Regions from separate parts of the Homo sapiens genome. Here region 1 is linked to region 2. The links come from fine-mapping of genetic effects on gene expression. Tissue or cell type: whole blood. Region 2 holds a variant in brackets; the other region holds the start of a gene. All regions are shown on one strand. Distances are between the middles of the regions.

Region 1 (2,630 bases), 130 kb before region 2:
CACAGGCCAAATAGCCCTCTCAGAAACAACTAGGAAAGGAAAAAGTTCCCTTGGAGCTGTGCGTTTGCGTATGTCCGTGTGTGTATACAACTGAGGGAGAACGAATACGAGAGAGGGAACTCGAGTCTGAAGTACTGTGGTGTGGGCAGGGTGACATGTAATACTGAAGGAAAGAAGTCTGCTGGTGAAGTAAGAGCCACAGTTAATTTTCCGAAAGGAAGATGAGTAAGTGCACCTGACGTTATTCTACGAAAGCTGCTTCTGCAGGGTGGGAATGTTGGGAAGCAAGGTCTAGTGCGACAGAATTGAAAAGGTGGAGAGCAGGTGATTGCTGGATCCCTAATGCTCAGCAAGGGGGACGCATCCACATAACGTGAGAACGAACGAATGAATGAACGCTGCATAAAAGCAGCTTTGGCTTGGGGAAGGTAAGAGTCTGCAGAGAAGGTCTTGGGGAGAAAAAGCAAAGAAAACCGAGGGAAGAGGCCGAACCCTTAGTGTCAGGAGGAGGGGTGGCTGCGGGGTTAGTGAGGGCACTGACCAGAGAGAACTCGGTGCCGGGCCAGTTGACTCGGAAAGGGATGTCATCGCTGAGTTGAGGAAGGGCTCGGCCGCCGCCGGACGCCTCCAGGAGGCCGCAGAGGACCAGTAACACCGGCCCGCCCGGGACCAGACTCCGTACGCCGCCGCCTCCTTCCTCCATCCTCCGCCGCCGCTTTCTCCAGCCACCGCCACAACCTCCTCTGCTCCAGGAGGAGAGGAGGAGGAGGAGGAGGTGGAGGAGGAGGCGGCGGGACTATAAAGCGCCCGGGTATCACCGGCCCAACCGCCGCCACGTCTCCTTCCGGAGAGCCCGGCAACGCCGCCTCCGCCCCCTTGAGCCTCCTGTCACCGTTTCCGGGGCAGACGACATATCAACATCCGGGGGTCGCGGAGCCGTCCGCCTACGGGGGCCGGGACGTCGCCTGCGCGTCTCTCGTTTTCGGACGGCTGCAGCATCGCGGTGGGGATCGAAAGCGGGGGCTTCTGGGACGCAGCTCTGGAGACGCGGCCTCGGACCAGCCATTTCGGTGTAGAAGTGGCAGCACGGCAGGTCGGTGAGTCTCGGAGGCGGCAGCCGCTTCCTGAAGCCATTCCCGCTGCTCTCCAGTGGGCAGGCAGAGGTTTGACCCACACGGAGTGATAGCGGGAAGAAGACAGTGTGAACCGTGCGGGTGCGGGTCCTTAGATGAGAAAATTCGAAGTAGCGATGAGATGTGAGAAATGGCGGTGTTCCTGACTGACCTGCCTTCTTGCAGCTTTTCTTCTTTTTCTCCGCATTTGGCATTTGTACACTTCATTTTTCCCGCTTGAGGCTTATCTCCATCTCTTCTGCTGTGGACCGTGGCCATCTCGTTACTTAACAGCTTCTGACTAACGCAGGGCAGTTTGTTCAGCGACTGCAACTCTGTGTTAGGGGAAACCTGGGGTGAGGTAGCCCGCCATCTCCCCGTAGGTGAATACCGCAAGCCTCCGAATTTGGCGTGGTGGGCGACTCTCGTGGAATGGGCAGCTAGACATCACAACCCTACATTTTTACCCTCCATCTCTAGATTGAAGTGTTGGGGTGTTGTTTTATCAAGGAAGCTGGTAAGGTTCCTTATGTGAGGTTTAGCGCCAGATGAATGTGTGTGTTTATGAACTAAGTCACGTCTGACTGCATCCCCAAATTAGACAAAAAGTTTTGTTTTTCCCTCCCCCTCTTTAGAAAAAATGCCATTGTCTGTTTTGATCTCCAATATAATGGACATAGAGTGTTGGCTTTAGAGAAATTACCATTCCCTAAAGCTCGACAGTCTTGCTAGATCTGTTAAAGACTGGTCGCCCCCACTTCCTCAGATTTGAACCAAATCAAAAAGCAGGAAGGACAGTCCCATATTCTATCTTAAAAATTTTTTTTTAACATCAGGAATCCATAGTATCAAAGAAGATAACTTTCTTCAGAATTGTTATTCGCTAATTATATTCAGCACTTCTTATTAATGCTTAATGTGATCCAGACTCCTGGGATTTTTGTTGTTGTTGTTTGTTTTGAGACAAAGTCTCGCTCTGTCACCCAGGCTGGAGTGCAGAGGCATAATCTTGGCTCACTGCAACCTCCGCCTCTGGAGTTCAAGGGATTCTCCTTTTTCTCAGCCTTCCGAGTAGTTGGGATTACAGGCGCGCGCCGCTACACCCTAATTTTTGTATTTTTAGTAGAGGCAGGGTTTCACCACGTTGGCCAGGCTGGTCTCGAACTCCTGACCTCGGGTGATCCGCCCTCCTCGGCCTTCCAAAGTGCTGGGATTACAGGCCTGAGCCACTGTGCCTGGCCCCCCTGGGCTTGGTAAAATGCCAAATAAATGGGTTTCTGTCTTTGGTCACACAGTCTAGGCAGGGAGATTGTACAAACAAATAATTGCAAACTATTATAGTAGTAATAGTCAATTTTTTTTTTTTTTAGCATTTATTCTGTGCTAAGCACTAGTCTTAAGTCATGAAGGAAAAGAGATGTATTTGACGGAATAAAAATGAAAACTGTCTGTGAGGTCCTGTTTTAGCATTTAGGGCTATAGTGATTGAATCTGTGTTCAATAGAGCTGATGTTCAAG
Region 2 (2,764 bases):
TTCAAAAGTGGCTTGGCCGAGTGGTTATCACTCAGGGTCTGTCATGAGGTTGCATTCAAACTGTAAGCTGGGGCTGCAGTGATCTAAAAGCTTGATCAGGGCAGAAGGAGCCACTCCAAGATGGCTCACTCACATGGCTGTTGGCTGGAGGCCTTGGTCCCTCACCACATGCACCTCTCCATACAACTGCTTGAGGCTCCTCTCATGTCAGCTCGCTTACTCCAGTGCAAGTGACCTTAGAGCAAGGTGGATGCCACAGTGTCTTATAATCTATTCTTGGAAGTCACACACCATCATTTCTAATCTGTTCAATTCATTTCAAGCAAATCACAAAGTACAGCCCATACTTAAGGAGAGAGGAACTAGGCTTTGCTTTTGGCAGGAAGGAGTATCAAAGAATTTGTGGACAGCTCTTTAAACTACAACACTTACTTCCTGTAAATTAGTAGTCAGATGTAGACATGAATGCAACATACTTTGGGCCCAGTGCAAAATGAAAATGTTGGACCTGTTGTTCAAATTTCCCTTCCTCCCCTCCCTTCCCCTCTTCTTCTCTTTCCTTTTTTTTTCTTTCTTGCTCTTTCTCTCTCCCTTCCTTTCTTTCTTGCCCTCCCCTCACTCCCTCCCTCCCTCACTCCCCCCTTCCCTCACTCCCCCCCCTCCCTCCTCACTCCCTCCCTCCCTTCCTTTCTTCCTCTCTCCCTCCTTCCATTGGTTTGGCTCTGTATCCCCACTCAAATTTCATCTCAAATTGTAATCCCCACATGTTGTGGGAGGGACCTGGTGGAAGGTGATTGGATCGTGGGAGCAGATATTCCCCATGCTGTTCTCATAAGTTCTTGCAAGCTCTGATGGTTTAAATAAATGTGGGACTTCCCCACTCGTGCTCGCTCTCTCCTGCCACCTTGTGAAGAAGATGCTTGCCTCTCCTTGCCTTCCACCATGATTGTAACTTTCCTGAGGCCTCCCCAGCCATGTGGAACTGTGAGTCAATTAAACCTCTTTTCTTTATAAATTACCCAGTCTCAGGTAGTTCTTTATAGCAGTGTAAAAACGAACTAATTCTTTTTCTTTCACACAGGGTCTTGTTCTGTCACTCAGGCTGGAGTGCAGGGGTATAATCATAGCTCACTGCACTCATGAGCTCTTGGGCTCAAGGGATCCTCCTGCCTCAGCCTCCCAAGTAGCTAGGACTACAGGCATGCACCAGCATGCCTGGCTGATTTTTGTATTTTTTGTAGATACAGGGTCTCGCTATGTTGCTCAGGATGGTCTCAAACTCCTGGCCTCAAGTGATCCTCCCACCTTGGCCTCCCAAAGTACTGGGATTGCAGGTGTGAGCCACCTTGGCTGGTCCAAACAGGGCAGCAGAACATAAAATGGGACCCTTCTGAGCTCAGAGCCCTGTGAAACTGAATAGATTACACCTATGAAACCAGTCCTAGATGTAGAGGCTTCCTCGGATTCAGATTCAATACTCATACACTTTCTGTCTTGCATACTGTTTCATAGATGTTGGTTACTTCATCTCTCCTAGTGATATTAGCAGCAATTGGTGATCACTAGCTGGATCTATTAATTCGTTATAGTTTTCTTTACATACTAGCTGTGATAATTT[C/G]AACAGAAGAATTTCCCTTGATAATTTGGTTACTCTGAGATCTGGTTTGTATAGAAAAAATAGTTATTTTCCTTTATTTGCCAGTTTTCAGAATAATGAATTAGTTCTCTAATATCCTTTAAAGATGGTCGATAGGCTTTTTGTTAACTTTTAAGTTCAGGGGTACATGCGCAGGTTTGTTACATAGGTAAACTTGTGTCATGGGAGTTTGTTATGCAGATTATTTCATCCACCCAGGTATTAAGTCTAGTACCCATTAGTTACTTTTCCTGATCCTCTCCCTTCTCCCACCCTCCTTCCTCCAATAGGCCACGGTGTGTGCTGTTCCCCTCAATGTGTCCATGTGTTCTCATCATTTAGTTTCCACTTACAAGTGAGAAAATGTGCTATTGGGTTTTCTATTCCTGCATTAGTTTGCTAAGGGTAATGGCCTCCAGCTTCATCTGTGTCCCTGCAAAGGACATGATCTCATTCTTTTTATGGCTGCATAGTATTGCACGGTGTATATATTCCACATTTTCTCCATCCAGTCATCATTGATGGGCATTTAGGTTGGTTCCATGTCATTGCTATTGTGAATAATGCTGCAATGAACATATGTGTGCATGTGTCTTTATACTAGAATGATTTATATTCCTTTGGGTATATACCCAGTGATGAGATTGCTGGGTCGAATGGTATTTCTGTCTTTAGATCTGTAAGGAATCGCCACACTGTCTTCCACAATGGTTGAACTAATTTACACTCCCACCAACAGTATATAAGTGTTTTTTTCTTCACAACCAGCATTAATATAATCATAGATTTTTGATGTTTTCTAATCTATTGCAGTTAATTACTCTTATTGATATTGATTGTCCTATCTTTAATTAGTGTTTAAGTATTCTTTGTTAGCTTTCTTGCGTTCTGGTAATAAGATAGTTCAGGTTTATGTTGTACATTTCCCTCCTCAGACCTGGAATCAGACCTATTTTTGCAAAGAATTTTGTTTGCTTTTTCAGAAATGTTATTATATGGACTGTAATACACATGACATGCATTGGGGAGCTCATTTCTACTGGTTTGATCATTAATCACTTAGTGGACAGAGCTAAGAAATACAGTCCTGCATCACATAACGATGTTTTGTTCGACAAACTGCATATA

What was found. PIP is the estimated chance that this variant, and not a neighbour inherited with it, causes the effect.
Region 1: ASB3 starts here. The variant in region 2 is fine-mapped to the expression of ASB3 in whole blood (INTERVAL, PIP 0.94).

Annotation. Positions count from the first base shown.
Region 1 is chr2:53,785,284-53,787,913 of GRCh38, reverse strand. It overlaps ASB3 (ankyrin repeat and SOCS box containing 3), which reads left to right and starts at 961. Exons shown (of 10, transcript NM_016115.5): 1 at 961-1,093. The region is part of intron 1 of GPR75-ASB3 (GPR75-ASB3 readthrough); the gene reads left to right. It overlaps ERLEC1 (endoplasmic reticulum lectin 1), which reads right to left and starts at 870. Exons shown (of 14, transcript NM_015701.5): 1 at 542-870. The coding sequence starts at 703. RefSeq lists enhancers at 878-1,297, 813-1,471.
Region 2 is chr2:53,656,787-53,659,550 of GRCh38, reverse strand. No RefSeq gene overlaps it. Among named protein-coding and RNA genes, the nearest start is that of CHAC2, 110 kb to the left of the region's middle. The variant C/G (reference allele first, on the strand shown) is at 1,619.